Linked DNA regions of Homo sapiens: regions 1, 2 and 3 are each linked to region 4. Evidence: fine-mapped expression QTL. A gene starts in region 4. Each other region holds a variant in brackets. All regions are shown on one strand. Distances are from middle to middle. Region 1 has its middle 26 kb from the start of TRIM33. Region 2 has its middle 140 kb from the start of TRIM33. Region 3 has its middle 130 kb from the start of TRIM33. Region 4 holds the start of TRIM33 (tripartite motif containing 33).

Region 1 (5,150 bases), 26 kb before region 4:
CCACCAAGCCTGGCTAATTTTTGTATTTTTGGTAGAGACAGGGTTTCGCCACGTTGGCCAGGCTGGTCTCAAACTCCTGACCTCAAGTGATCCACCTGACTTGGCCTCCCAAAGTGCTGGGATTACAGGCATGAGCCACCACGCCAAAGTGCTGGGATTACAGGCATGAGCCACCACGCCTGGCCTGTACTCTTTTAATGATGTTTTCAGATAAACAAAAGTTCTTATATTTAATGTAAACTAATTTATCTTTTTTTCTTTATAACTAATGCTTTTTGAAACTAGATTAAGAAATCTTTCTCCATCCTGAGGTCATAAAGGTTTTGTTTTTTATTATCTCCTAAAAGTTTTGTAGCTTTCTCTTGCATGGTAGATTCATATCCTCTGGAGTTATTCTTGTGAGTAGCACCGGTTACTTTAAAAGGTGAGAACAAGGATCTAGGTTTTAAACAAGGAAAATTGTTGAAAGTGTATTTACAAAGCAGTTAGACTCATCAGGTCCCTTTTCCAGCTGGGCATAACTGGGCAACAACCTCTCCAGATAAAGGATCCGGGAAGGGCTCCAGACTTAGGTACATCAGGTGCATCAGATAACAGGGGTTTGTACAGGGGCTAAAAAGAAGAGAACGCGTGAAAATTTGGTTCTTTTCTCCAGCTCTGGACCCTGAACTCATGCAGCCAGGCGTATGCTGCCTGGGAGATTGGAAAGTTCTTTTCTGAAGAAATTGAACCTCTCTAGAAAATAAAGACCTCCAGATAAAAACATTTGTGGATATCCAATACATAGGTCTACCAGATCACCTTATATTGTAGCCCAGTGCATGACAAATTACCCCAAATATAGTGGCTTAAAACAACAAACATTTATTATCTTACAGTTTGTCCAGGTCGAGAATCAGGGCATGGTTTAGCTGGGCACTTCTGGCTCAAGGTCTCTCATGAGATTACAGTCAAGTTATCAGCCAGGGCTGCAGTCTCATGTGAAGATTCAACTGGGGTAAGGATCCGCTTCCAACCTCAATTATGTGTGGTTATTGATCACAGGATGAGTGGGCGTCTCCACAGGGCCACCTCAGGACATGAATGCTGTCATCTCCCAGGGCAAGCAACACAAAAGAGAGCACCCACAATGGAAGACTAATCTTATTTATAAACTAATCTTAAAATGGACATCCTGTCACTTCTGTCATATTTTATTTGATAGAAGCAAGTCCCTAAGTCCAGCCCATACTAAAGGAGACATGACTACATAAAGATATTACAAATGTAGGGAATCCCCAAGAGCACCATGATTTCTGACCCCAACTGCAAGCTTGGGGTCCCTGAGACACTGTCATGTTTGACAATTTGTTAGAAGGACTCACAGGACTCACTGAAGAGGCACATAGGACAGTGTCCAGGAGAGTTTTTGTTTTTTTTTTTTTAACTTCAGCTGTTGTTTATTGATATACAGGTAGGCTCTATAGCAACAGGCCCGGAGGTGCTGCAGTAGTGGGGGAAAATGGAAGGTGGAGGGTGGAGTGTTTGCCGCAGGACAGCTGAGTGGAGGGTGGGGACAGGCGCAAATTGGGGAGGCCCAGGGGTTTGGGGAAGCAAGTAAGGGTCAGGCCAGAGTACTTAAATGGAAGAACTGTCCTGTGCCCTAAGGCCCCTAACTCTCGCTGGCTGTTTCCTGACCCCAGACCAGGGGTTGGGAGTCCTCTGGGCATCTGTTTTCTAAAGGAACTGAACAGAGTACACACAGGAAAAGAAGCTGTCATCCTCTTGCCATCTGGCTTTTGGGGCCTCCAGTCCAGCATTCCTCCTTCTTCCCTTGATTGGGTGGGACCACATGATGGGCAGCCAGGCTCTGGGCTGTCCTGCCAGAGCAGGCTGTAAACACAGCCATGTTTCAGCAAGGCATTTATCTTATTCCCTGGTGTCCCAGCCCACCAGTGCCACATTACAGCCCAGACTGAGCTCTACAAGCGTTGTTGGCCTAATGGATGGTTCGGGGAAAGGAGGTGGGACAGGCGCTGGAGCAGGGGCTTTGGGGTCCATCACCGCACAGGAACAACACGCATGGTGTTGGTGAAGCCAGAGCCAGGGCGCCACCCGGTCAGCACAATGACCACATCTCCCTTCTTTTTATTTTTATTTTTATTTTTTTGAGACGGAGACTCGCTCTGTCGCCCAGGCTGGAGTGCAGC[G/A]GTGCGATCTCAGCTCATTGCAAGCTCCGCCTCCTGGGTTCACACCATTCTCCTGCCTCAGCCTCCCGAGTAGCTGGGACTACAGGCACGCGCTGCCACGCCCGGCTAATTTTTTTGTATTTTTAGTAGAGACAGGATTTCACCGTGTTAGCCAGGATGGTCTCGATCTCCTGACCTCGTGATCTGCACGCCTCGACCTCCCAAAGTGCTGGGATTACAGGCGTGAGCCACCGAGCCCGGCCCACGTCTCCCTTCTTAAAGAAGCCTCGGGCCTTGCCAACATTCAGGGCCAAGTTCACCCAGCGGTCCACATCCTCAGCCCTGGCCTCCTGGACTGGGTCCTTGCACAGCACAGGGAAGATGCCACGGTACAGGTGGGCCTGACTAGCTGTCTGGGGATTCCGTGTCACAGCAATGATGGGGGCACGTGGGCGGTATCTAGCCACCTGGTGAGCAGACCTGCCAGACTTGGTGAGGACGATTATGGCCCCACTGCAGCACTTGAAGGAGGCCTCGTTGGCACCCACGGCGGTGGCTTTCGTGGGGTCGCTAGTAATGGGCGCCAGTGGGTGGGAGTTCCTCAAATAATTGCAAGTGGTAGATGGTGGCCTCTGCCTCATGGGCAATCAGGTGCTGCATGCGCCCAGCCTCCAGATAGTCCGCTTTGGCTGTTTCTCCAGACAGCATGATGCAGTCGGCTCCATTCAGTACTGCACTGGCCACATCACTGTCACAGATAGGCTTCCCAGCTCAGCTGCAACGCCCAATCATCATCCTCTGAGCAAGGAAGACCTTCTCTGCAGGAATCTCAATGCCTGGATTACCACGAGCCACCATGATCCCATCACTGGCCTCTAGGATTTCATCAAACCTCTGAACCCCCACATGATTCTCGATTGTGTTGATTGTCTTGATGTTCTTTCCCTTCTCTCCCAGGGCCTCCCTAACTTCATGGACATCAGATGCCTTGCGGATGAACGACGCAAACACCATATCGACATCCTGCTCGACCCCAAAATTCAGGTCCTGGATGTCCTCTGACACAGCAGGCAAGTCCACAGCAGCCCCAGGAAGGTTCACACCCTTCTTGCTGCCCGAGGAACCACCAGTTTCCACCTCCGTCACCAGGAAGTCAGCACCTTTCTGCTTTACCTGGAGAGAAATAAGCCCATCATCCACGTAGATCTTGCTGCCCACTTCCATCACCTTGCAGATGTTCTTGTAGTCCAGCCACAGGATGTTCTCGTCACACTTTTTCATGTAGGTGTTATCCAGCATGATTTTGAGAGTGGCTCCCATCTTCAGCCCCACCTCCATGGTGCTGCTGCCCTTGATGAGCCCAGTTCGGATCTCAGGTCCTTTAGTATCCAGAGCCAAAGCAACAGGCCGGTAGAGGATGGGGTCAGCAGCAAAGCTTTCCGTGGCTGTGCACATGTTCTTGATGGTCTCCACGTGGTACTCATGAGTTCCATGAGAGAAGTTCAGACAAGCCACATTCGTTCCAGACTTAATCATCTCCTTCAACATCTCCACCGATTGGGAAGCTGGGCTAATGGTACAGATGATGCCAGTGTTCCAGGCTGGGATGGGTGGTGTGTGAATGTCCAGGTGGCACATGTGCTCCAGGAATGTGTCAGCCGTGGCTGCATGTAGCTGCTGGGTCTGAATGAAGGCAGTCCCGGCTTCACTATGGGGCTTCAACATGGCTGCTGAGGTCCTCCAGTGCTGACCGATTTGGGCTACACTGCAAACGCAAAGAGGTCAGGAGCCCCAGGATGTGCAGCTGCTGTGCCCCAGGAGAGTTTTAAATGCAGAGCATCTAGTTGTCCTCTCCCAGTGGAGCTATTCTTCTCACAGTAACAATGTGTGATAATACACATGCAATATTCCCAGCCAGGGAAGCACCTCCAAGCCTTGGTGTCCAGAATTTTTATTGGTCATGTAGACGTGGCTGACTGCCTGTGTGGCTGGCCTTCATGTCCAACCCCCTCCTGAGGTTGAGCTGACAATGCATGGTTCAGAGCCCCTACCATATATCACATAGTTAGCATAGACCATCTGGCATGGCCCAAGGCCCCCAGGTAAACAAAGAACATTCCAAGAGTTTAGAGATTACCTCCCAGAAAGTGAGAGTAAAGGCCAGATACTTCTTGGGGCAAGGTTAATCCTTTTGTTGCACAGGCATGAATACCAGGAGGTGAGGATCACTGGGTGCTACCTTTCAGGTTTCCTACCACACTCACCATTTAGAAAACTCCCCAACCTGAGCTTCTGATTAGCTTTTAAGTGCCTCATTCTTATTTTTAAATTATTTTATTTTATTACTTTTTTTTAGAGACAGGATCTCGCTCTGTCGCTGGAATGCAGTGGTGCAATCATAGCTTGCTGCAGCCTCCAACTCCTGAGCTCAAGCGATCCTCCCACCTCAGTCTCTCAAGTAGCTAGAACTACAGGCATGCACCACTATGTCCAGCTTTGGTGCCTCATTCTTAAATATGGTTGGATGACCACCCATTTTAGGAAAGTCTCCAATATAAGAGAGAGGCCAAAACAAACCATGAGGGAAAAGGAACTTAAAAGGAAACAGACAATTGAGAAAATAAAACTAAACTAAAAAACTAACCAACCAACAAACAAAATAAGACAACCCCTACAATATTGCTGGAGAGATCGAATATTGGATCCATAAGACAAAGAACAGGCTAATGTAGAAAAGATAACAAGAAAGGGCCCTTAGAGGCTAAAACATGATAAATGAACTAAAAATTAATAGCTTGACTACATTTTGGGAAACCGGGAAGGGGAAATGTTTGTGTATTGATGTGTGTTGCAAGGGCTACGATCTAAGTTAGCTAAACCCTCATCATCCAAAGTAGTTAGTAAATCAAGGGTGGATTCAGGGCTTATGGGGCCGGGGGCATACATGATTTGGAGGATGCTTTTAAGATAATTTTTTTTTTT
Region 2 (5,150 bases), 140 kb after region 4:
CATTCCAGTCAGAGCCTTGGTAAAATAACCAGTTTCTCCAATGGTGTCCTGTCACAAAAGAAAACAGATTCTTATTGAACTTATGCAAATAAGTGTACTCCCATAAATTAAGTATACTTACAAATAGTTTTCAAATTCTGGGGAAATCAGGTAGAGAGAAAGAAATACACTCCAATTTCTAAGAGTTTACTTTATCCAACTGTTAAAAGCTGCACATAGCTTCAAAGAAGGGTTTTCTCAACTCTGAAAAACAAAAAGAATAATCAAATGCTTTAAACAAAAAGTAGTAAAAGATTACTTCAATCTTTTGTTATTTCATTCCATGCAATTAACTCCTGTGCTGCTCAATATGGAATCAGCAATCCTCATGAATATATCAGCTTTCCATGAGAGTCCTGGAAGCTTTTCTCTCTATTCAGTCCAATGGCACAATCTCTAAAGTTATCAGAAACCTATATTTAAGAGTACTCCTCAGAGTTCTATAGCTGATTATAAACTGCCCTATGAAAGGATCAAAGTAAAACAACCATCGTGGAAGACAAAAGTCTTAGAATGGCCATGGTTAAAGACATAAGTGACTAGAAATTTTGGCTACTTTTATGGCATACAACAATTTTACATAATAATCACTACTGATAACATATTAAGATATATCAGGATCATAAGAATCTCATGCAAGTTTGGAACACATACTGATAAAACATTTATATAAATGTAATCTAAAGAAGGTTAAACACCATTTCATATTTCACAGTGCTTTCTGTATGATTTTAATATGCCAAATCAAATATGCCTCTTTTGGACTTTAGGGTACTGAATATCTAAAAGGAATAATCAGAGCAAAAAAAAGGCTTAATTTAGAAATTAACTTTGGAAAGTTTGTTAAATATCAAATGTTTAAACACTTGAGATTACAAAATAGAATTCCAGGTCATTATAAGAAAAAGGGAAAAATCTCTGCTCATTGATAGAGGGTAGACTCAGCTTTCCAAAAAACCCAATAAAGACAGCATGAGGCCAACTAAATCTGTCTCTATTCTCTTCCCTTTTTTTCTTCTGTCACTTGTTCAAAAGGCAAACAAAAAGCTTTTGTTATCTTTTAATATTACATGAAAATTCTGTTCAAAACAGAAAGCTGGCCAGGTGCAGTGGCTCACACCTGTAATCCCAGCACTTTGGGTGGTGGAAGAGGGAAGATCACTTGAGGCCAGGAGTTCAAGACCAGCCTGGCCAATATGGCAAAACCTCGTGTGAACTCCAAATACCTGAGACAGGTCTTAGTTAATTTAGAAAGTTTATTTTGCCAAGGTTGGGGATGCACACCCGTGACACAGCCTGAGGGTCCTGATGACAGGTGCCCAAGGTGGTCAGGGAACAGGCTGGTTTTATACATTTTAGGAATACATGAGACATCAATCAATATATGTAGGATGTACATTGGTTCCATCCAGAAAGGTGGGACAACTCAAGCAGGGAGGAGTCTTCCAGGTCACAGGTAGGTAAGAGACAAATGGTTGCATTCTTTTGAGTTTCTGATTAGCCTTTCCGAAGGAGGCAATCAGATATGCATTCATCTCAATGAGCAGATGGATGGCTTTGAATATTAAACAAAATGGAAGGCAGGTTTGCACTAAGCAGTTCCCAGCTTGACTTTTCCCTTTAGCTTAGTGATTTGGGGGCCCCAAAATTTATTTTCCTTTCACATCTCCCCCCTTTAAAAAAATCTTTTGGAGAAAGCATTTTATAAGAAAATGAGCCTCTGGTCTCAGGTTTTTTCTGATCTCTCATGGCTAGGATGGTTTATTCTTAGAGTTATTAGGAAAGCTCATTTTTAGCAGGTTGAGAAGTCTCATGTCCTATGAAGAGAAAATAAGGGGAGGAAGGGAGAAAGACAACAACAAACAAAAGAACAATCCTGGAAAATCAATATAGGCCACATTACTCTGAAGTCCATACATCATTAGGCAGTTATGAAAGTGGCTTATGTATGCAAATAGATGGCTGTTATTTTCTACCTAAGTTTAAGTTGTCTAGATTCAGTTCACAGGGATTTAAGAAAACATAGCCTAGTTTTCAGAGATTTAAAATTGGGAAAAATGGGGGGTGAAGCAAAAGAAAGGAGAAAAAAATTGTAAACATTGTTTTGGAGACTTGCATCCAGGAAAAATTAGAATTCAGACCATACTGTAGAAAATAATAAAAATTGAAAAACATTAGGCAAGACTAGAATCTAACAACAGGTATACTATACTTTTTGAAACATAATTTTTCTCTCTCTAGTTTCCCATTTTTACTAAAGAGAAATCATGGTAGGACCAATTTGCTTTATTATACTTGGCCAGATTATTTGTATAAAATGCAGCAAGAAAGGCCAGGTGCGGTGGCTCAGAGCTGTAATCCCCACACTTTGGGGGGCCGAGGCGGGCAGATCACAAGGTCATGAGATC[G/A]AGACCAGCCTGGCTAACACAGTGAAACCCCATCTCTACTGAAAATACAAAAAATTAGCCAGGCGTGGGGACACGTGCCTATAGTCCCAGCTACTTGGGAGGCTGAGGTAGGAGAATTGCTTGAACCCGGGATGCAGAGGTTGCAGTGAGCTGAGATTGCACCACTGCACTCCAGCCTGGGTAACAGAATGAGACTGTCTCAAAAAAAATGCAGCAAAAATAATTTTTTTTTTGAGATGGAATCTCGCTTTGTCACCTAGGCTGGAGTGCAATGGCATGGTCTCAGCTCACTGCAACCTCCACTTCCCAGGTTCAAGTGATTCTTCTGCCTCAGCCTCCCGATTAGCTGGGACTAAAGGCACATGCCACCATGCCTGGCTAATTTTTTTTGTATTTTTAGTAGAGGTGGGGTTTCACTATGTTGGCCAGGCTGGTCTCGAATTCCTAACCTTGTGATCTGCCCACCTTGGCCTCCCAAATTGCTGAGATTACAGGTGTAAGCCACCATGCCCATCTAAGAATAATTATTTTTTACATAGGCTTTTAAAATTGGCTTTGATGGAACTTTGTTCCATAGAAGGAATCTCAGATAAGACTTTTTAAAACCAAGCCCAGCCATGGATTTGTACCATCAAATACCTGTAAGTTGGGTGAATTTTTCTCCTCTTGATGTCCCAAGATAACTTGGGGCTCCTGGGCCTGTCAGAAAGTGACATTCCTTACTTACCACAGGTCAGGAACTCTCTACAGGGACTATGTACAAAGTATGAGGCCAGCTTTCCCAAGGCACTTTTATTGGCTCTGTAAGTCAAGTTTGATTCCTTACAGGAATGCACACCATTCCAGTCAAAGCCTTGGTGAAATAACCAGTTTCCCCAATGGTGTCCTATTTCATTTACAAATGAAAACAGATTCTTATTGCACTTATGCAAATAACAATATTGTCATAAGTTAAGAATGTTCACAAATAGTTTCTAAATTCTGGAGAAATCAGGTAGAGAGAAACAAATATGCTCCAAATTTTTTTCATAGGAGTATATTTAATTGTTAAAAGCTGTCAGTAGGCTGAGCATGGTGGCTCACACCTGTAATCCCAGCACTTTGGGAGGATGAGGCAGGCGGATCACTTAAGGTTAGGAGTTTGAGACCAGCCTGACCAACATGGAGAAACCCTGTCTCTACTAAAAATACAAAGTTAGGCATGGTAGTGCATGCCATAATCCCAGCTATTTGGGAGACTGAGGCAGGAGAATCGCTTGAACTGAGGGGGCAGAGGTTGTGGTGAGCCAAGATTGTGCCATTGCACTGCAGCCTGGGAAAAAGGAGCAAAATTGTGTCAAAAAAAAAAAAATCTGTCAGTAGCTCAAAACAAAATTTCCTTGACTCTGAAAAACAAAAGGATCAGCAACGTTTTCAGCAAAACGTCAAAAAGATTACTTCAGTCTTCTTTTACTTCAGTCCATGCAGTTAATTCCTATTCTGCTTGATATTCATGAGCATTTCAGCTCTCCATGAGTCCTGAAAGTTTTTCCTCTATTCTGATGTCACAATCTTCAAAGTTATCAGAAACCTGCATTCAAAAGTACCTGTTTGAGTTTTATAGCTGATTATCAAACCACTTTCTAAAGAGGACCCAAACAAGACAATAATTGTTTGTGGATGACAAAGAGTTTTAGGGCAGCCATAGTCAAAGACACAATTCACAAGGAAATTTGTTGCTTCTGTGGCACACAATAATTTAACATAACAATTATAATTATTACTGTTAATGTACAGTAAGTCATATCAGAATTATAGGAGTTTCTCCACAATTTTGGAACACATACCAATAACATATTTATACAAATACAGCCCAAAGAAAACCAAATACCATTTTATATTTGACAATGCTTTCTGTAAAATTTTTATACCAAATAAGCCAAATATATCATTTTTGGGCTTTAGGGAACCTAATATCTTAAAATATTAATTAGATCAGAAAAACACATAATTTATAATTTGATTTTGGAAAGTTTGTCAAATATCAAAGGTTTAAAACACTTGATATCACAAAATAGGATCACAGATCATTGTAAAATAAGTCATTCATTTAATAAAAGTGATAAGGATTTCAACAAAAGACAAAAACCTTCATTCTTTGAGAGAGGAGACTTAATTTTCCAAACAATAAGCCCTAATGAAAACAGAATGAAGCCAATTAAATTTGCTTTCCAAAATTTTATAAACAATCTCTAAAATTTTTATATTGACTACAAGATATAACTTCCATAAGCCTTTTATAAACTTTATAACATTTATTAAGGAGTTGGTTAATGCTTCAAGAAAACTTTGTCAATCTGACACAGGGGCCCATATGCTTGCATCAGTGTCTTGCATCAGTGTGCCTTTGACATTAATCATTAATTTATAGAAAAACTGAACTTATTTTATCTGTCAAATTGGCCCTGACAATCTCACACACCCATCTCTTCTGCAATAGTCTCTGGGCCCTGAGGAGTTGAATAGCTTTAATTTCTGGCCCTGTGTCTCAGGAATGCAGTTTATTTTGATTGGCGTCTTCTACCAGGCCTGAAGATGAGACTTTAATTACTGTCAGGGTTTAAAATTTAGCAGGACTTGGTGTCCTTTTTAGACCCAGGAGTCAAAGCCCTGTAACTGAATGTCACAATGACTTTAAAAGTACATACAGAAAGATACACAGAT
Region 3 (5,150 bases), 130 kb after region 4:
AAAAAAAAAATGTCAACCAATAATTCTATATCCAGCAAACTACTTTCAAAACTGAAGGTGAAACACAGACTTTCTCAGATAAAAAGAGAATTTGTTGCTGGGAGACTTGCCTTGCAAGAAATACTAAAAGAGGACTCCAGGTTGAAAGCAAGGGACTCCAGATAGTAATTTGAATACATACCAGTAAAGGTAATTGTGTAATTATATAGGACAGTACAAATGAATATCTCCTCTTGATTTTAAGAAGAAACAAATTATATAAACACTATATATAATAGTGGCCCTATAAATATGAAAATGTAATGTTTATGAAATTTTCTGATAATGGTACAAAGGAAATGAGCAGGAAAGAGCAAAGGTGTACGGAGCTAGAGAAACTGCAGTTGGTAAAGTAATAATAGCAATGTGTTGTTGAGTTTGTAATATTAATATGTATAACTATCACAAAAAGGAGAAAATGAAAATAGAGATATATAAGAGCAATGTTTGCATGTAATTAGCCTAGTTCTGAAAGATGCATATGGTAAAGCCTAGACTGACCTAAAAATTCAGGACTGTGCAGTGGCTGAGATTATATGCCTGTAACCTCAGCACTTTGGGAGGCTGAGATGAGAGGATCACTTGAGGCCAGGAGTTCACAACCAGCCTGGGCAACATAGTGAGAACTTGTCTCTACAAAAATGTAAAAATTAGCCAGATGTGGTGGTGAGTGCTTGTAGTCCCAACTACTTGAGAGGCTGAGGCAGGAGGATCACCTGAGCCTGTGAGTTAGAGGTTACAGTGAGCTATAATTATGCCACTGCACTCTAGCCTGGGCAAGAGAGTAAGACCCTCTCTCTCAAAAAAAAAAAAAAAAAAAAATCAACAAAGTTTCTCTTGTAATGAGAAACTATTAAAGAAATGAAAATACGACCAGGTGCGATGGCTCACGTCTGTAATCCCAGCACTTTGGGAGGCCAAGATGGATGGGCAGATCACTAGGTCAGGAGTTCGAGACCAGCCTGGCCAATATAGTGACACCCCCTCTGTACTAAAATTACAAAAATTAGCCAGGTGTGGTGGCGCGCACCTGTAGTCCCAGCTACTTGAGAGGCTGAGGCAGAAGAATCACTTGAACCCAGGAGGCAGAGGTTGTCAGCCGAGATCGCGCCATTGCACTCCAGCCTGGGCGGCAGAGTGAGACTCTGTCTCAAAAAATAAAAAAAAATAAATGAAAATACTACATTAGAAAATAGTCACCAAAAAAACTTGGTAAGACATGGAAAACAAAAAAGGACATAAATCCAACAAATCAGTAATGTTAAATATGAATAGGTTGAACAATCCAATCAAAAGACTGACTGAATTTTCTGAAAACTTTTTTTTAAAATTTTTTATTTCCATAGATTATCAGGGAACAGGTGGTATTTGGTAACATGAGTAAGTCCTTTAGTGGTGATTTGTGAGATTTTGGTGCACCCATCACCAAGCAGTATACACTGAACCCAGTTTGTAGTCTTTTATCTCTCACCGCCCTCCCACCCTTTCCCCAAGCCCCCAAAGTTCATTGTATTGTTCTTATGCCTTTGCATCCTCATAGCTTAGCTCCCACTTATGAGTGAGAATATACGATGTTTGGTTTTCCATTCTGAATTATTTCACTTAGAATAATAGTTTCCAGTTCCATTCAGGTTGCTGCTGCAAATGCCATTAATTCATACCTTTTTATGGCTGAGTAGTATTCCATTATATGTATATCACAATTTCTTTAACCACTTGTTGATTGATGGGAATTTGGGCTGGTTCTGTATTTTGCTGTTGAGAATTGTGCTGCTGTAAACATGCATGTGCAACTATCTTTACATATAATGACTTCTTTTCCTTTGGGTAGATACCCAGTAGTGGGATTGCTGGATCAAATGGTAGTTCTACTTTTAGTTCTTTAAGGAATCTCCACACTGTTTTCCATAATGATTGTATTAGTTTACATTCCCACCAGCAGTGTAGAAATGTTCCCTTTTCACTGCATCCATGCCAACATCTATTATTTTTTGTTTTGATTGTAGCCATTCTTGCAGGAGTAAGGTGGT[A/G]TCGCATTGTGGTTTTGATTTGCATTTCCCTGATCATTAGTGATGTTGAAAACCTGATCCAACTGTATACTATGTACAAGAGACACAGTTTAGATTCAAAATAGAAACAGATTGATGAAAGTAAAAGGATAGAATAAAATATGCAAATAGCACCTATAGAAAATTAGAGTGGATATACTTTAAGAGAAAATGGATTTTAGAACAAAAAATTATATGAAGGGACATTTTATAAGATTAATCCCTCAGAGAGATATAATAATTATAAATATATGCACCTAATAATGGAGCACCAAAATACATGACACAAACACTGACAGAAACAGAGAAATTGACACTTCAATAATAATTGCTGGAGACTTCAGTACCCCACTTTCAATAATGGATAGAACCACCGGACAGAAGATCAGTAAGGAAACAGAAGACTTAAACCACACAATAAACCAACTACCTAACAGACATCTGTGGAATACTGTCAACAAACAAGAGGATATACATTCTTTTCAAGTGCTAATGAAACATTCTCTAGGATAGGCTTATATGTTAATCTGTGAAACCTCAATAAGTTTAAAAAGATAGAAACGATACGGCTGGGCACGGTGGCTCACGCCTGTAATCCCAGCACTTTGGGAGGCCGAGGTGGGCAGATCACGAGGTCAGGAGATCGAGACCATCCTGGCTAACACAGTGAAACCCCGTCTCTACTAAAAATACAAAAAAATTAGCCGGGCGTGGTGGCGGGCGCCTGTAGTCCCAGCTACTCCGGAGGCTGAGGCAGGAGAATGGCGTGAACCTGGGAGGAGGAGCTTGCAGTGAGCCAAGATTGCGCCACTGCACATCCAGCCTGGGCGACAGAAGGAGACTCCGACTCAAAAAAAAAAAAAAGAAATGATACAAAGTATGTACTCCAGCACAATGGAATGAAATGAGAAATCAATAGCAGGAAGAAGTTTGGGAAACTTGGAAATACGTGGATTATTAAACAAAATACTCCTAAGTTAAGTAGTGGGTCAGAGAATAAATGAAGGAAAATCAGAAAATACTTTGAGAGGAATGAAAATGAAGACACAACGTAACAGAACTTCAGCTAAAGCCCAGCTTACGGAGAAATTTATAGCCGTAAATACTTATGTTAGGAAAGAGTTAAAATAACTTAACATTCCATCTGAAGATAATGGAAAAAGAAGAGCAAATTAAACCTAAAGCAAGCAGAAGGAAGGAAATCTAAATCAGAGCTGAAGTTAATGAAATAGAAAATAGAGAAAACCAAGAAAACCAAAGCTGGTTCTTTGAAAAGATCAACAAATGTGACAAACATTTAGCTAGACTGACCAAGAAAAAGAAGACTCAAATTACTATAATCAGAAATGATTAAGACATTACAGAAATGAAAGTATGAGAATAAAATGAACAATTGTATGACACTGTATTAGATAACCTAGATGACATGTATAAATTCTTAGAAACACATGAACTACTGAAAGTGACTTGAGGAAACAGACAATCTGAATTGACTTAAAACAAGTAAAGAAGATAAAACAGGCTGGGCGCAATGGCTCATGCCTGTAATCCCAGCACTTTGAGAGGTAGAGGCAGGCAGATCACTTGAGGACAAGAGTTCAAGACCAGCCTGGGCAACATGGTGAGACCCCCATCTCTACTAAAAATACAAAAAGCCAGGTGTGGTGGCACGTTCCCATAATCCCAGCTGCTGAGTGGCTGAGGTGTGAGAATCGCTTGAACCTGGGAGGCAGAGGTTGCAGTGAGCCAAGATTGCACCACTGCACTCCAGCTTGAGTGACAGAGCAAGACTCTGTCTCAAAAAAAGAAGAAGATGTCAAACTATGTTTTGGCAGACATGGTCTTATATCTAGAAAATCCCAAAGAATCCACTAAAAACTATTAGAACTAATAAATGAGTTTGAGATTGCAGGATACAAGATCAATATACAAAAATCAATTGTATTTCTACACACTTGCAATAAACCAACTGAAAATGGAATTAGGAAAATAATTTCATTTACAATACCATCAGAAAGATTAGGATAGAAATAGTTTAACAAAACAGGTATAAAATTTGTACTCTGAAAACTACAGAGCATTACTGAAAAAAGAAAATCTGAATATTTGGAAAAATATCTGGTGTTCATGGATCAATACTCAAACTGATATACAGATTCAGTATAATCCCTATCCAAATCCCAACTGACTTTGTAGAAGTCAGTTTGTAGGGTCCCACACTGTCACCTAGGCTGGAGTGCAGTGCTGTGAACATGGCTCACTGCAGCCCTGAACTGCTGTAGTTGGAACTACAGGCATGCACCACCACACCTGGCTAAATTAAAAAAAAATTTTTTTTTTATAGAAATGAGGTCCCCCTGTGTTGTCCAGGCTAGTCTCAAACTCCTGAGCTCAAACAGTCCTCCCACCTCGGCCTCCCAAAGTGCTGGGATTACCTCACCCAGCCTAACTATCCACTTTAAATGGATACATTTTATTTTTTATAAATTATATCTTATAAAGTTGATTTTAAAATAATATTTATTTTATCTCCCTAACTTGGTCCATTACAGAGGGCTAGAAACTACAAGCAAGCTATTACCAATTCTTAGGTTATAATATGGTCTTGTGACTGAAACACCGGTCAGTTGCTAGCTGCACAAAGTTCAATTAACAAGAGTAAGTTCTAGTATAATGAAAGTGATTTATTCCAAAGCTATCTTTACTTTTGGAGCAGAAAGCAGACACTTGTAAAAGGCAGAGGAGGAAGTGAGCAAGGTGGGTGTCTGTTAGCTAGCTTGGTGTCTTATCTTCTGAGCAGTTGGGTTGACATCTGTGGGCAGAGATAAGTTGTAACTAGGTAGTGAGAGAGTAGTGGGTGTATGCTTTTGACTGTTACCTCTCCAGATAACCTCCTGGTGAGTGGGAGTTCCACAGAGGGCATGCTTTGGTTTGTAAATTGACTGTTAACTCTTGAGAGTTCTGTCTTGGAGCACATAGTTGAACTTGCCATGTAGAGAGTATCTGGTGAATGGGGAGGTAAATGGTAAAAGGCTTTATTTGTATTTCTTTTTTTATTTTTAT
Region 4 (5,150 bases):
CCATCCTATACAAATTATATAGTTTTCAAAAACAACACTTTTATTCTAGATTTTAATAAAGGCAAATGTAGCAGGCATCAAAAGGTTAAGAAAACTCATGGAAGCAAAACTTTTGGTTGAGAAATTCAGTTCATTAGCTTATTTTTTTGAAGTGAATTTGAGAAGAAGTGTTTATGATTTATACTCCATATTTTTCACCACCTTTACAGATTCTAACCTGATCCAACCAACCGAGTTATTACCCTATTAGCCCCTTAACTGGTCTTCCTTATTCCACTGACCATTTACAGGTGATTCCTCTAGGAAGCAGCCACAGTGACTCTTTTCACAATTCTGCTTTGAGTCTTTGCTCAAAACCCATCCAAGCCTTCCTATCTGACTCAGTGGTCCTAAGGCTAGGGTATGAGTACTCCTGGGGTACTTCAGTGAAGGAAAATTTTCCAAGGGGTACATAAAAAAGTAAGGGTAGTTTTAAGGGAATTACTCCATCATATATGTGAGTGTGTAGATACATACATGTATACATATATAGTTTTTAATGCAGTAAAGACTGTGGCAATGAAAAATGGAGTTGATACAGGACCTTATCTCATTCTAGCAATGTTATATGCATTCATGCCTACTCGAAATAATTAGGGGAAGGGGGAAGACTCCCAGCCATATCATTAAAACATTCCCAATACTTTTCCATGTTTAAAAAATATAACATTTTAATATACTTTAAAAAATGGATAGTATTAAGCCACTTTAGTGTTTACTTCCCTATTAGATTAAAAATAATTTTTAAATGTCAGTATTACAGAATGTCACAAATTAAACTCTGCAACTATTTAAACTTCTGAAAAAATTTAGTCAACTTACAATGTTTGAGGAAAGAAAACAGCCTTCCAAAATTCTTTCAAAGGGCACAAAAGTTAAAAAAAAAATTGAAGACCATTTCTGTACATGACCTGGCTCCCTTAATAACTCTCTTATCTCATGTCCTACTATTCTCTCCCTTGTTCAAGCCACTCCAGCCACACTGACTCCTCCTCTAACAAGCCAAGAATCCGTTTCCCTCAGGCCCTTTGCACTTGTTATGTGTTCCTCTCCTGCTCTTCTCCAAGACAGGTTCCTTCATCTGATCAACAGGGGCCTTCTTCAATCACCTCTAACCCCTTTTACCCCACTTATTCTTTTCTTCACAGCACTTACCACTCCCTGGCATGTATCTATTCTCAATCTTTTTCTCTATTAGATTGTAAACCCCTTGAATGCAGGGAGCTCCTCTGTTTTGTAATCCCAGTGTATCTCTAAAACACTATGACAATAAAGAGGTCAGGAAACATTTTTGAATAAATTTTAAAAAGTTTTCAGGAGGCTGGGCGCAGTGGCTCATGCCTGTAATGCTAGCATTTCCAGCGGCTGAGGCGGGCCAATCGCTCGGGCCCAGGAGTTTCAGCCTGGGCAACATGGTGAGACCCCAGCCTCTTCGAGGCAAAGGGAAAAAAAAGATCAGCTAAGTCATGGTGGCGTGCATCTACGGTCCCAGGTAATTGCGAGGAGCACGGCTTGAGCCTGGGAAGTCGAGGCTGCAATGAAATGTGATGACGCCACTGCACTCCAGCCAGGGCGACAGAACGAGGAGGTCTCAAAAAAAAAAAAAGTTTTCACGTGGTTTAAGGACTTACAGCACCTTTCTTGGGAACACTAACAGGAGACCAAAGCATTTCATGATCTTAACACTAAAACAGTTGTTGCACTACATAAAATCCTCCAAATACCTTTTTTTTTTTTTCAAATAAAAAGGCAACTTTCTGAAAGCTTTTCTTTTTTTTTTGAGACGGAGTTTCGCTCTGTCGCCCAGGCTGGAGTGTAGTGGCGCTATCTCGGCTCACTGCAGCCTCCGCCTCCTGCCGGGTTCAAGCCATTCTCCTGCCTCAGCCTCCTGAGTAGCTCGGATTACAGGCGCACGCCATTACACCCGGCTAATTTTTATATTTTTAGTAGAGACGGGGTTTCACCATATTGGCCAGGCTGCCCACGAACTCCTGACCTGACCTCAAGTGATCTGCCCGCCTCGGCCTCCCAAAGTGCTGGGATTACAGGCGTGAGCCACTGCGCTTGGCCTGAAAGCTTCTACTACCATTGTTGTAAGGGCATTTGTCACCCAGCTCAACCCAGGACACTTAAAGTGGGACCTCAGAAGGACGCAGTATTGGTTATATCCGTGGCTCTCCAAACTGACATACATAAGAATCAGCTGAAGGGACTTTTCCCCCTCCGTCGGCTCTCTCCCTCACTTCCTGATTCAGGTCTGGGGACTGGCCCTGGCATCTCTGCTTTGAAAAACTCCTCCGTTGATTCTGATACGTAGCAACTCCTGAGAATCACCTTAAGATGCCAAAAATAGCTGTTAAAGAGTTTCTTCCTCACTCGGTCTTTTCAGCCTATTTCTGATAGATCCTCAGTTCAAAAACAAAAAGCAAAAAAAAAACAAAAAAAAAAACCAAAACCAAACAAACAATAAGCCCCGCTTTAGTGCTCCACGGCCACCCAAAGGAACGCGGCTGGTCTACGCACAGCAGAGACCCAGGAGGTCCCGGCGATCGAGCGGCGCGGCAGGTGAAACTTCCGCGGAGACGCCCGGGACACGCTCGCAGGGACCGGAACCGTCCCGGCTACCACCCTTCCGTATGCACCACCGCTGTGTCGGAGTTCATAACCAACCCCAGCCAAAGGCTACCCAGCGTCAACGGCCTCTGGCTTTAAAAAAAAAATCTCCCTTCGGGTTAAAGAGCCGCGGCACTGACGCAAGGAACTGGCTTCGAGGGTCCGGGACCGCTCCGCGCCCGCGAACCGAGTTCCCGCCTCCCTCGGGAGGACGTCCGTGCGTACGTGCGCGTGCCGCAACCGCCCTCCTTCAAACGCGCGACGCGAGGGCGGGGGCGCCGCGTGCGCGCGCGCTCTCGTTGGTTCGCTCTCTCGCTAGCTCTCGGCTGCCGCTCTTGCTGCGGCTGCGGCTGGGGCTGGGGGCGGCGGCGGCGGCGACGCGGGCGGCGGGCGGCGCGGGGCGGTCCGGCGGGTTCAAAGAGGAAAACATGGCGGAAAACAAAGGCGGCGGCGAGGCTGAGAGCGGCGGCGGGGGCAGCGGCAGCGCGCCGGTAACTGCCGGGGCCGCCGGGCCCGCCGCGCAGGAGGCGGAGCCGCCTCTCACCGCGGTGCTGGTGGAGGAGGAGGAGGAGGAAGGCGGCAGGGCCGGCGCTGAGGGCGGCGCGGCCGGGCCCGACGACGGGGGGGTGGCCGCGGCCTCCTCGGGCTCGGCCCAGGCTGCTTCATCTCCTGCGGCCTCAGTGGGCACTGGAGTTGCCGGGGGCGCAGTATCGACGCCGGCTCCAGCTCCAGCCTCGGCTCCCGCTCCGGGTCCCTCGGCAGGGCCGCCTCCTGGACCGCCAGCCTCGCTCCTGGACACCTGCGCCGTGTGTCAGCAGAGCTTGCAGAGCCGGCGTGAGGCGGAGCCCAAGCTGCTGCCCTGTCTTCACTCCTTCTGCCTGCGCTGCCTGCCCGAGCCGGAGCGCCAGCTCAGCGTGCCCATCCCGGGGGGCAGCAACGGCGACATCCAGCAAGGTGAGCCGGAGGCCCTGCCTGGCATCTGGGCCGCAAGGGATTTGCGCAACCCTAGAGGAGCTGGGGACGGAGGTGCTGGGGCCTGGGGCTGCTCGGACGGGCGCCATCCCGAGGGGTCTCTAAGGTGAAAGACTCGCCCCTGGGACACTTTCCAGAGAAGCTGGACCGCAAGAGATAAGGGGAGCATGAAGGGAGGGGTGCCGGCTGCGAGAGGCTGGGGGAGGGGACACTGGCTCCGAGGGAGGGTTTGTGATGTGCGGAACCCGGCCGAGCGCTGGTTCTGGAGCTGGCAGACCCGTACAGTGAGAGAAGGGGGATTTGGGAAACACGTTGTGAGGAAGCGTTTTGGCTGAAAGGGCCCGGGCCAGCGAGGTGTTGAGGGAGTAGGTAAGAGGTAAGGGCAGTGAAGATGGATTGCTTTGGAGGGAGGGGACTTGGCGTGTTCACAGATAGGAGAGAGGAGGACTATGGATTAAATGGAGGTGGAGAGAATATGTTGGAGAGCAAGGGGTCCAGAGAAGGCGCCTGGAAGAAAATTGTAAGATGACATGGGGAAAGAGAAACTCGGAAAGTGGACTGCATGGTTAGGGAAAATCCTAAGGTTTGGGGATGAAGGAGAAATGAACTTTGAAGGAAATTGAGAGTTAGGGAAAGCTGGGCATGAATTTGTTTTAGCTAATTGGCCGTTAATGAGCCCCTAGTGTTGGGGCACTGTGCTAGGATTGAATAAAGTACTCAATGAAGACTTCATTCACAGTCTAACAGGAGAAACATATAACTTGCAGCAGTGGAGGTGAGTCCTCAGTACAATGGTTGTGGCACAATAGAGGAAAGGTCAGGGAAATTTCACAGGAAAGGAAATCCATGAACAGGTTTCTTGAAGAATGAGTACCTCACTGGGTTGGAGGGTATTCAGGGCACAGGACACCCTTCTACATCCCTGGAACTAAAGACTGTGTAGGGTGATTGGTGGAAATTAGATTGGATTGATGGGCTGAAAAGATAAAGGTTTCACAGTCTCTTAAACTCTTGGGATCCAGGTGTAAGGACTTCAGAATATTTTGGGATTTTTCTTTTTTCTGGCAAGGTCTGTTATGTGAGACTTTTATCAGGGTCTGAGTTAACTCTATCAAACACGTTAATGTTTCTACATTGAAACACGTGAATGTCACGCTAATGGGATAGACGATAAATAACCTCCCAGCATTCACAGTGGGTTCTGTTGCAAACCAATGAAAAAAATTAAAATTTCAAAGCTTTTGAATTTCGGGACTGTAGGTAAGCGATTGTGGAGCTGCACTAAAGGGCTTGGAATTCATCCTGTAGAGTGTATCCTCGACATTGTGGACTGAAGGATGTTCCTGGAGGGCTTTCATATCAAGAGGATAAAAGGATCAGATTTCTGATCCAGAAAGATCACTTAGGGCACTTGAGGGATGAGGGAAGGCAAGGCTGGAGACAAGGAGACCAGTTAGGAGAATCCTGGCGGTTATCTAGGAAAGAAATCAACATTTGGAATGGGTAGTAAAGGAATGATATATCAG

What was found. PIP is the estimated chance that this variant, and not a neighbour inherited with it, causes the effect. A credible set is the group of variants that fine-mapping cannot tell apart.
Region 1: its variant is the best candidate, but not a certain one, in a credible set for the expression of TRIM33 in whole blood (INTERVAL, PIP 0.57).
Region 2: its variant is the best candidate, but not a certain one, in a credible set for the expression of TRIM33 in whole blood (TOPMed, PIP 0.77).
Region 3: its variant is the best candidate, but not a certain one, in a credible set for the expression of TRIM33 in whole blood (TOPMed, PIP 0.57).

Annotation. Positions count from the first base shown.
Region 1 is chr1:114,534,738-114,539,887 of GRCh38, reverse strand. It overlaps the pseudogene PKMP1. Among named protein-coding and RNA genes, the nearest start is that of TRIM33, 26 kb to the right of the region's middle. The variant G/A (reference allele first, on the strand shown) is at 2,190.
Region 2 is chr1:114,372,578-114,377,727 of GRCh38, reverse strand. No RefSeq gene overlaps it. Among named protein-coding and RNA genes, the nearest start is that of TRIM33, 140 kb to the left of the region's middle. RefSeq lists a silencer at 3,455-3,655. The variant G/A (reference allele first, on the strand shown) is at 2,448.
Region 3 is chr1:114,379,965-114,385,114 of GRCh38, reverse strand. No RefSeq gene overlaps it. Among named protein-coding and RNA genes, the nearest start is that of TRIM33, 130 kb to the left of the region's middle. The variant A/G (reference allele first, on the strand shown) is at 2,070.
Region 4 is chr1:114,509,007-114,514,156 of GRCh38, reverse strand. TRIM33 (tripartite motif containing 33) reads left to right here and starts at 2,954. Exons shown (of 20, transcript NM_015906.4): 1 at 2,954-3,606. The coding sequence starts at 3,081. It overlaps LOC124904348 (a long non-coding RNA gene), which reads right to left and starts at 2,819. Exons shown (of 2, transcript XR_007066452.1): 1 at 2,232-2,819. RefSeq lists enhancers at 995-1,757, 2,618-2,787 and silencers at 2,978-3,087, 3,118-3,417.